Regions from separate parts of the Homo sapiens genome. Here region 2 is linked to region 1. Evidence: fine-mapped expression QTL. A gene starts in region 1. The other region holds a variant in brackets. All regions are shown on one strand. Distances are between the middles of the regions.

Region 1 (5,393 bases):
GGATACCTACAGGTCTTTCTAATCTATAGCTGTACCTCCATGGAAGGTGAGACAAACCATCTCTTATACTGGTATGTGATTTACAATCTTTTCTTTTAGCCCTAAGCTTTGTTTCCTAACTCATTCAGGTTTTTGAGGTTTAATACTCAGAAACCAGTCTGTAGAATTCAAACTTTTCTCTCAAATTATTGTCTCTGCTATCAAGTTTAAAATCTATTTTAAAATTCAAAAGCAATAATTTGATTTCTTTTTTTTCTGCCTCCATGATACCTCTGTTTGAGTTTGAAAGGAGGCAGATGCCAGGATGTAATACTGCAAAACTATCATCTTGCTATATAAAATGGTCGTCTAAAAGCAAGCTGAGACTAAACAGGTACAAGTTGCACAGGTAGTGAAGCTCAGTGAGAGCAAGTGATGCAAGAGTCATTCTGAAGGGTGAAGAGCAACTTTGCTTTGTATTCCAACTCCATAGTCATGGGTTCTGCAATTGGAAATAGCTTAAACAAAGAGGGGAATACATTTTAAGGATACGGTGATGTCTCATAGAACCCCAGGACCAGAAAGCAGTTAGGCCTTGGGAATAAATGGAATCAGGAACTCAAATATAATCACACTCTTCACCTTTTCTGGTTCACGAAATTACTGAAAACTCCCATTTTTTGCAGTTCCTAGTGGCATTTAAAGATAATCTGATCTTTCTTTCTAAACTACACTTCCAAAATTCCCAGAAAAGGACAGTTTCCCAAATTGAGTAAATGTGGCCAGGGCAAGGGGAATGGAGGAAAGTCCCACTGTAATAACATAGACATTTTCATGGTTACCAGGCAAATGGTGTGGTAGAGATGGGGAAAATTTAAAAAATCAGTTTGCAAAACAGGTGAATCTGGCAGGTGCTCTGTTTGTTTTTCCTGGCTGCATGTAGTTGAAAGTTCAAACCTCTTAGACCTTCAAAATCTCCCTTTAATCTGTTTTTCCTACTTTTTCTGTTAACCCTGTATCATTCCCTACACCCTGAATCTAGAAGCACCAAGCTATTTTCTCTTCCTGGAATGCACTGTGCTCTTCATGCCTATCAGCCTTTATACAGGTTTCTTCTTAGTTTGGAATGCCATTTTCTCCCTAGTCTGCCTGGTAACTTCTAGTCATCTTTTAGGTCTAGCTCAGAGTTATATCTGGAAACACTTGACTTTCAAATAAGAGTTTATTGCTCTTTTTGTGTTTCACTTTGTTTGCACTATTCTAGGACTCCTATCACATTGGATTGTAGTTGCCTAATCTGTCTCTTTTCTCTACCACCTTGGACATTTTAGAAGTAAAACTATGCCTTGATCTTATTTGTCTCAATGGTGGCTTGTCATTGGGTTGTACGTAGCAGAGGTTCAATAAAATTCTCATCAGTTATTATTTTTCTCTTTTTCTCCCCGACCTAAATAATCTCAGTACCCCCAGCTCCCTAAACTATCAACAAATAGAAAAAAAGCTCTATTCATTTTTATCCTTGTTCTTTACTCTCCTTAGTTTAAACCCAAATTTGACTATGTAAATGTAATTTCATTTTGTTACCCCTTCCTTCATTAAAACAAAAATACCCTTCATGCACATGCAAAACACTCTACCCCACACTATTAAAACAGCAGAAATGAACACTAACAAAAGCCAAGATAAAAAATTTCCCCAATGTTGAATTTTTGGACTTAGTGTGGGGGTAGGAAAAATGGAGACATAATTCTGGTTCTCCCTTTGGCAGTTTTCAATTGCTGTTTCTTAATCTCAGTCAGAAAACACATTTCTCTGCCTCTCCTTTTGCCCCATTTCTACCCTCTCCTCCCTTGCCCCTGTGCAAAACCAAAGATGGGTTAAGAGGCAAGGCATAATGGAAGAGGAATGTTCTTTTCCTCCACTCCCACTTTCTTCTTCAAATTCTGTTTTGGGACCATCCTTCCCCACCCTCCCATTTTCATCTGATGGACACACTGTCTCTGTTGTCTCTTGTCATATTTGATTTTATGATATTTCATGTTTTATGTGCTTTTTTTTTTTTTTAGTAAATTCATGGACAGAGAATGTATCCTGGTAAACACTTAGATTAAAACAAATTTACATAGTTGATTACTATAAATGAAAATTAGTGACTCAAATTCTCCAGGTTTCTAAGCTACTTAGACTAAGCCAATCAGGTAATTTTTGCTACTTCTGGGCAAAATGTATCTGAATTCCTATTCAGTGGATTTGCAGGATGAAATCTAAGTTTACCTCTTTCATCTCTCATTTAAATGTGGAAAAACGAAATCAATAAAAATCTATATATGCTTATTAAGCATTTTAAGGAGGGTGTGAATAAGGAGTGAAAGCTTTGAGCAGTGACTACAGCAGTTTTTCGAAAGTCAAAACAATAACCAATGCCAATCAGTAGCTCTCTTCACCTCTCACACAATAATAGAGACAGGACAGGATAAAAAAGGGTTACATTTAAAAAAAAGTATGGATGTTAAACCATTGGAAATGGCACTGTAAATGACACCGGAAAAGATCGCCTCCAGGCACTGTGTGGAACTTTGCAAACTCGGGTCCTCACCCGAGGACCGCACGGCCGACCTCGGGGAGGCTCCACCCCAGAAACTATTTCATTGGCGCCACCTCTAGCCCACACTTCCCCTCTTCCGCATGCGCACAAGGAGCAGAAGCCGACCAGCTCGTCACGTCGCCTTCCCCGCCCCTAAATTTCCAGTTCCGATTGGTCTGTTTCATGGGACCGCCCCTCTGGCCCGACCAATGTGGAAGCCTCCTCGGGTGCTCCGCCCTCCCCGCAGGCGGCGTGCGGCTGCATAGCCTGAGAATCCCGGTGGTGAGCGGGGATGGCGGTTGTAGCGGCGGCTGCCGGCTGGCTACTCAGGCTCAGGGCGGCAGGGGCTGAGGGGCACTGGCGTCGGCTTCCTGGCGCGGGGCTGGCGCGGGGCTTTTTGCACCCCGCCGCGACTGTCGAGGATGCGGCCCAGAGGCGGCAGGTGGCTCATTTTACTTTCCAGCCAGATCCGGAGCCCCGGGAGTACGGTGAGCCCTGGGACTGCCCACTCGGTCCCGCTGCAGCCCGGACTCCCAGGCTCGCAGGCGCCCGCGAGGGGCAGGGGCCGGCAGGCTGCAATCCTTGCATCCCAGCTTATTAACTTCCTGACTCTCTGGAACCTCCTTGCCTCAGGGTCTAACTGTGGTTCACTTCTTGCTCTATTTTTGTGACTGTTCAGCCCTCGAGACGCAGTCCCCCCTCCCCCGCAACTTTGAGATGGGTGAGAGGGCATACTGCCACCTGGAAGAGCCTGAGGGTGGAGGGGTGGTGCCCAGGGAACGCCTCCCTTTTCTCTGTCCTCCGTCCTTGCTTTCTCAACCCAGGCCTTAGGTGTTGTTCCAGCCTGGCCAGGACTGGGCCACTAGCTTAGGTAGAGGCATTTAAAAGATATATATATATGTTTATATATATATATTTTAAATGTATATTATATATATTATATATAAAATATATATATGTATATAAAATCAATTCAGTTACTCAGTCCCTTGGTTTCTTCTTACATACAGAAATTGTGTGTATGTGTGTGTGTGTGTGTGTGTGTATATATCCACACACATATATATATGTGTGGATATATATACGCGCATATATATGCATATATATGTGCGCATATATATATATATGCATATATATATATGCACACATATATATGCATATATATATGCATATATGTATATATGTCCCTTGGTTTCTTCTTACCTACAGAATTCTGAGTAATTGAACTGATTTTCCCAAGGTCACAGAACAGGTCCTTCCTAGAGATGTGAAAGAATTCAGACTTTCTACTTGAGCTTAGTACTGAGCTTGTCCTGGGCTATGCTGCCACTTAGCCAAGGAGGTGAAGGGGATGAGAGGAGGAAGCCATAGGAAGGGCATGTAGCAAACTCCTCATAGTATGACTGTTGCATGATTTTTACCATTTCTGCAAGTTTCATGTAATGTCTCTCATCAGAATATCAGATCCAGTGTCTCTCTTCAGAATATCAGGAAACTGTAGGGAAACATGTATTGCTTCCTTGTCTAATAACTTCTCATGTGCATGCTAGAGCTGACATTTTTGGAAGTGTGTCTTGTGGATAAGAATGAACAGTTATTGAGTGCTTACCAGGGTCAGGTGCTGTGTGTATGTTTCATCATCTCATTTAAGGGTTAGGACAACCTTAAAAGGTTAGTAAAGTTTTTATTCCCATTTTGCAGTTAGGTTAATGGAGTCTTGAGACAGTTTGACCAAGATTACACAGGTAAGTTAGTGGTAGCTCCAAAGCTCCAGCTTTGGAATCTAATTGATCAGATTCCAGAGCTTCCATTCTAAACAATGTACTAAGATGCGTGTAGATATAATTTACTTGGAGGGCGTCCCAGTATTGTGAAACAGTAGGTACCATAAAGGTTAATAGTAGGTGTTTTTTTTTTTTTTTCCACCACCAAGATGAGCCCTCAATTCTGTCTTCAAAGCAAATTCTGTCTTCAAAGCAAAGAAATTTTGGTCTAATACTTGAGAAATAGTCCAACTTTCCATAGTTGTAAACTTACTAAAATCTAAGTAAAATGATATCATGTTATCATGATATATATCATGATATATATAAACTTGTTCTTATTTTAAAAATAATACAAACATATTAACAGATAATTTGGATAATGGATAAAAAGTAAAAAAAAAAAAAAAAAATCTGCCGGGCGCAGTGGCTCACGTCTGTAATCCCAGCACTTTGGGAGGCGGAGGCAGGCGGATCACCAGGTCAAGAGATCGAGACCATCCTGGCCAACATGGTGAAACCCGGTCTCTACCAAAAATACAAAAATTAGCTGGGCGTGGCAGCGCATGCCTGTAGTCCCAGCTACTCGGGAGGCTGAGGGAGGAGAATCGCTTGAACCTGGGAGGCAGAGGTTGCAGTGAGCTGATATCGTGCCACTGCACTCCAGCCTGGTGACAGAGCAAGACTCTGTCTCAAAAAAACCCCAAAAAACCAAAAAACAAAAATCACCACCCACTGCAGTAAATATTGCTAACATTTTGGGTGTATCCTTACAGGTATTTCCTTTTAGTTTCGTATTTTCCATACTTTTAGTTTTAATACAAATACAACTTATTTAGTCGGAAGAATTATCCTACAATTCACTGGAGTTTTTATAACCTTCTTGAGAATTTAGAAGAACTGTTCCATGGAGTAGAGATGCTACAAGTCTTTTACAAGTTAAATTCTTGACCCCGGAATCAGATTGTCCTAAGTTTGATCTTGCCTTGGCTGTCTATAACTTTGGAGTTACTACTTATCCTCTGTAAGCCTCAGTTTCTTTATATGTAAGGGGTTAATAATAATAC
Region 2 (5,393 bases), 100 kb after region 1:
GTTTTTTTTCCCCCAGAGTGAAGCTTTTTTAATTCATCTTGATGAATTCTATAGTAACCAAAATTTATATTATAATCTCTTTTAATTAGCTGTGTTTTATCAGTTGTTTTTGTCTTATGACTCATTAGATCGCTGAGTTTTATTCGTTGTGTGTCAACTAAACCCCAATATATATCTTTTGGAACGCCTGATCAAGAAAAGAAAGCATATTAAAGGCAAAAACGATTCGTTGAACACACATTATCATACTCTATACACTAAAATGCCTCTGGGACACTTGAGGAATTCATACTTCTTGCTTAATCCTTGATACATGGTTTGGAAGTTATAAACCAAAATAAATATTTGCTCGGGGATAGAGAAAGGAGCAGAGTCTTTGACTGTTGCTCAAGGGAGTTAAAAAATTAGAGACTTAAATGGTCCTAGAAACCACAGCTAGTTTTTCCACTCAATTCTGAACTTGATATTAAAAAGCTAAGCTGGAGACTTCTGAAAAGCACAGTAGAAAATTCTTGAGTTTTGAAGTGCTTAAGAGACAGAGACCTACCCTGTGCCATGGGTGTGTGTGTGTGTGTGTGTGTGTGTGTGTGTGTGTGTGTGTGTAGGTGGATTGGCTTAAGAGAATCAGCTGTGTGAGTTCAAAGCCCTGAAATGAGTGGCATGTTGACACCGATGACCTATAGCTGCTTTTTAGTTGGCTACACTTGCTATTTGGTCTCAACCAGGTGTGTAGAATCCAGGTATATAGAACTCATATTTTGTGGGGCTGTAGTGACAAAATTGAAATTTTGAGGGGATTTAAACACATACTTGACCTTTTATTTGCCAAATTCTAAAGGTGTGAATGGTGAAAGGTAAGTAGAAAATATCTGGAAAGTGAAGCTATCACTTGGTAATGAAGTGACAAAGACCCATCATACTCTCAATTGAAAGCCATGGAGAGTTAGGTCTTACAATTAGAGGCAAACCAGATGTAGACCAGGTCATCTCAAACCCACAATACAGCCTCTACCCCTTTGAATTTTTTATTGAATTATGTACTTTTACTCTATCTGCGCAGCAGAGCCAAGGAGTCAATCCTCTCATTATCTGGAACTTCTATAAACCAGCATTCAATAAAAAACTAAGTAGATGAAGAGACAGGAGTATTTGATCAATAACAAAGGGGAAAGAAACAATAAAAAGCAGAAGCACAGCTGATCCAGATATTGGAGTTAGCAGACAAGAACATCTTGATTGTTATGCTTAGGAACATAGAGAAAATAAGGAACAAAAGAGGTAAGAGGGTGGAGAATTACCCTAGAAAGTTTGTGTGTGTGTGTGTGTGTGTGTGTGTACATGTATGTATATGGATCAAGTAAACTTTGTGGAGCCATCAGAGAAATATATATCTGACAATAAGAACTCAATGAATAGGCTTATAACATATCGGACTCAGTAGATGATAGCAATAATGAACTGGAAGGCTAGTTAATAGAAAATGTCCAAATTGAAGCACAAGTCAGAAAAGAGGATAAAACACATTTGGGATCTGGTCAAAAGATCTGTCTTATATACAATTTGAATTCCAGAAAAAGAAGAGAGAGAAAATCTCTAACAGTATCTAAAAAAAAATTCTCATGAAGATTTCAGAACATCATTACACAAGCTTTGTTAACTTTTAAGATTATATTCAAAGAAAACCACACCTGTATGCACAATGGCATAACATCTTAAATTGCTGACTGTGCTAGCCTACAATTCTATATTCAGTGAAAATATCTTTTAAAAATTAAGATGAAATAAAAATAGTTTAGGCAAACAGATATTGAGAGAATTTATCACTAGCAGGCTCTCACTAAAAGAAGGTACTGCAAGGGAGCTCCCTTTGGCAGAAGGAAAATGATTCTAAAAGAAAATATGGAGGAGAGCATACACTATAGCTTAGTATTGATTATCCGAAACAGTAGTCATAATTTTCTGTGAAAGTTTAAGTTTAGTGAAGTTTAAGTTAAATATATGGAATTGAAATGTAAGACAATAAAAACACAAAAGCTAGGGGGTCTTACATGGAGTTAAAATATTCTGTTGTTCTAGGATTATTATGAAGTGTAATGTTCTGGTTAGGTTATAATCAAGGATACAAGTTATAATCTCCAGTGTAACAACTGAAATAACAGGGAATGAATGCATATCTAGCAAGTTAATAAGAGAACTATAAATTAATAAAAATATTTGGTTAATCCAAAATAAATAAGTATGAAAAATGGATGGGTCAATAGATAACAGATGATAAGATGATATAAACCCAAATATAGAAGTAATTAAATTAAATACAAAAAGATTAAATAAACCTAGTAAAAGTCTAAGATCCTCAGACTTCATGAAAAACAACTACCACCACCATGTGTAGCTTAAAAAAGGCATACTTTAAATATAAGGACATCAAAATGTTGAAAATGAAAGGATGGAAAAAGAAAGCTGGTGTAGATACACTAATTTCAAATAAAGCATTAAGGCAAAAAGGACTACTAGAAGTGAAAAGGAGCATTTCAT[T/A]ATGCCAAAGGGACCAGTCCACCTTAAATATATCATAATCCTAAGTCTATTTCATCCTTAATAACATAGTTTGAAAATAAATAAAGCCATAAACTAAACAAAGAAAACACAGAACTCAGAAGAGGTATGAACATATTCACAGTTACAGCAGGAGACTTTAAGACATCCCTCTTAAATCTTGCTTAATCAAGCAGACAAAATCTCGTGAAGTGTATAGAAGATCTGAACAAAGCAATTTGTAAAGTTGTCCTAATTGTGCACCAAACTATCAATAGAATATGTAGCATTTGTCAAAATTGGCCAAATGCTGGGGCATAAATATAACCTTAAAAAATTCCAAAAGCTTGGAGTCATTGAGATTATGTTCTCTAACAATAGTGGAATTCAGTTAGAAATCAAGTGAAAGAAAAGGACAACTAGAAAAGCCTCGACTTCCTACAAATTAAGTACCTTACTCTAAATAACCGTGGATTACAGAAGAAACTCAAAAATTAGAAAAGAAACTGGACTGAATGTTAATGAAGATAGAATATATCAAAAGTTTCAAGAACCAGCTTAAGCCATGCTCAGAGGAAACTTTATAGCTGTAAATATATAAATTTAGGAAATAGGAATAAGAATTAAAAAAATTAATGATCTGAATTTCCATCTCCAGAAAGAAAATCAAACCTAGAGAAAGTAGAAGAAATGAAGTAATTAAGAGCAGAAATTACTGAAATTGAATCTGTAGAGAAATTTAATAAAGTAAAATTTAGATCTTTGAAGAGATTAATGTAATTGATAAACTTTTAACTAATGGAAAAAATAGGGTAGAAACAAAGGACAAATATTTGTTTGTATGATGAAGAGCCCACAGACAATGGTAAGACAAAGAGGATGTTATGAATAATTTTACAAATAAGTTTTGAGTAAAGTTGACAATTTTCTGGAAAAATATAAGTCATTCAACATTGATACAAGAGGAATTAGAAAATCTGAATAGTCATGATCTATTAAAAAATTAAATTTAATGTTATTAACTCTCATACAGAGAAAACCCCAGGCCTAAATGGCTTTATTGGTGAATTCTCTAAAATGTAGTCCTTATGCAAACCCTTACGGAGAGTGGAATCAAAGAGAAAACTTTCAAATTCTTTTTATAAGGCCAGCATAATCTTAATATCAAACGTATTTAGGACAGTATAAGAAAGGAAAATTATAGACAGCTTTTAAAATAAATGTAGAGCACATAATGTTCATAAATATTCACAAAGCAGTTGATACAATTCCTCATGTTAACAGAAAACAGGAAGAAAAACCTGACTACCTTGGTAGTGCAAGAGAAGTATTTATTAAAATTCAATATTTATTCATGATTAAAATTTCATAGCAACCTAGAAATGGAAGATAATTATCTTACTCTGGTGAAGATTAGTTGCAAAATGCCTGCAGCAAAAATTATAATTCCTAGTGAAATTTTGACAGCTTTCCTCTTGATATTAGGACTGTCTAGGGAAAAATTTCGTGATACGTATGTCAGAACTTTACACAGAAAATCACAGAATATTATTTAGGAAAATTAAAGGCCCATAAACTGAAGCATATAGCATGTTAGTGGATTGTAAGGCCAAGAAGAGCCAGAGCAATCTTGAAGAAGAACAAAACTGGAGGACTTAATTATCAAATGTTGAGATGTGTTATTAGTGCTGTAGTAATTATAACATTATATAGGTATAAAAATACACAAATAGACCAATGGAATAAAATAAGAGTCTAGAAACAGACCTGCTGGTTATCTGATTCAGGACAAAGGTGACTTTGCAATTTTGAGAGGAAGAGGTAGTTTTCTCAATAGAGGATGTTGATTCATTTGGGTACTATGAAAAATAATTATATTAACTCTTACCACACAAGCATCAGTTACAGCTGAGTTGCAGATCTAATTGTGAAAGGAAAAAATAATGCTCTTGGGAGAAAGCATAGGTGAATATGTTCATGTGATCTTGTGCACTAATAAAACACTAACGTTAAAAAAGGGCTGATAACATTGTGCTTCATTACATTTAAGAAAATTTATTCATCAAAAGGGTGCCAATAAGAGAGTAAACAGGTAATTACAGATTTGGAGAAACTCAAGGAAACTTATATCTGGAAATATAAAGTACTTACACAATCAAAAAGAAAAGACCAATATCCAATAGAAATATGGGTAACAGTCTTGAAAAGGTACACTAAGTGTTGGCAATAATGTGGAGCAATTCAACTCTCATAGACTATTGTTGGTAACATAAATTTGTACAACCATTTTGGAAAATTGTTTGGCAGTATCTACCTGAACCCTATAACCTAGCAATTCCAATCCTGTATGTGTATATGTGAAGAAATATACAAAAAAAAAAAAAAAAAAACCAGAAGCGTTCATAGGAACATTACTTCTAGTAGCCCCACACTGTAAACTGCCGAAGTACTCATCAACTAGAGAATGGATCAATAATAAGTATAATATTGTTCAGCGATGAGAATAAATGAACTAAAAATGTAATGGAATAATGTATATTCATCTCATAAACACAAAGAAGCCAGACTCAAGTAAGTACATACTGAATGATTTATTTTATATAGAGGTAAAAAATAGACAAAACTAATTGATGATGTTAGAAGTCAGGCTAGTGATTATCATGAGAGTGGTTAATAATTGGAAGAGTGTGTAAGGGCTATGAGTTGCTGGTAACAGTTTCTTGTTCTGAGTGCTGATTATTCAGGTTAAATTTTTGAAAACTGAGCCGAACACTCATTTGGTGCACCTTTTTTGTATATATGTTAAACTTGAACAAAATTTTTAAAAAAGAAATAAAAAGAAGCACTATCTTCTGTTTAAT

What was found. PIP is the estimated chance that this variant, and not a neighbour inherited with it, causes the effect. A credible set is the group of variants that fine-mapping cannot tell apart.
Region 2: its variant is the best candidate, but not a certain one, in a credible set for the expression of BCKDHB in whole blood (INTERVAL, PIP 0.52).

What each region holds. Positions count from the first base shown.
Region 1 is chr6:80,103,839-80,109,231 of GRCh38, forward strand. BCKDHB (branched chain keto acid dehydrogenase E1 subunit beta) reads left to right here and starts at 2,833. Exons shown (of 10, transcript NM_183050.4): 1 at 2,833-3,051. The coding sequence starts at 2,856. RefSeq lists enhancers at 2,629-3,129, 3,096-3,175 and silencers at 2,716-2,915, 2,946-3,045.
Region 2 is chr6:80,205,233-80,210,625 of GRCh38, forward strand. All of the region lies in intron 8 of BCKDHB (branched chain keto acid dehydrogenase E1 subunit beta), which reads left to right. Among named protein-coding and RNA genes, the nearest start is that of BCKDHB, 100 kb to the left of the region's middle. The variant T/A (reference allele first, on the strand shown) is at 2,536.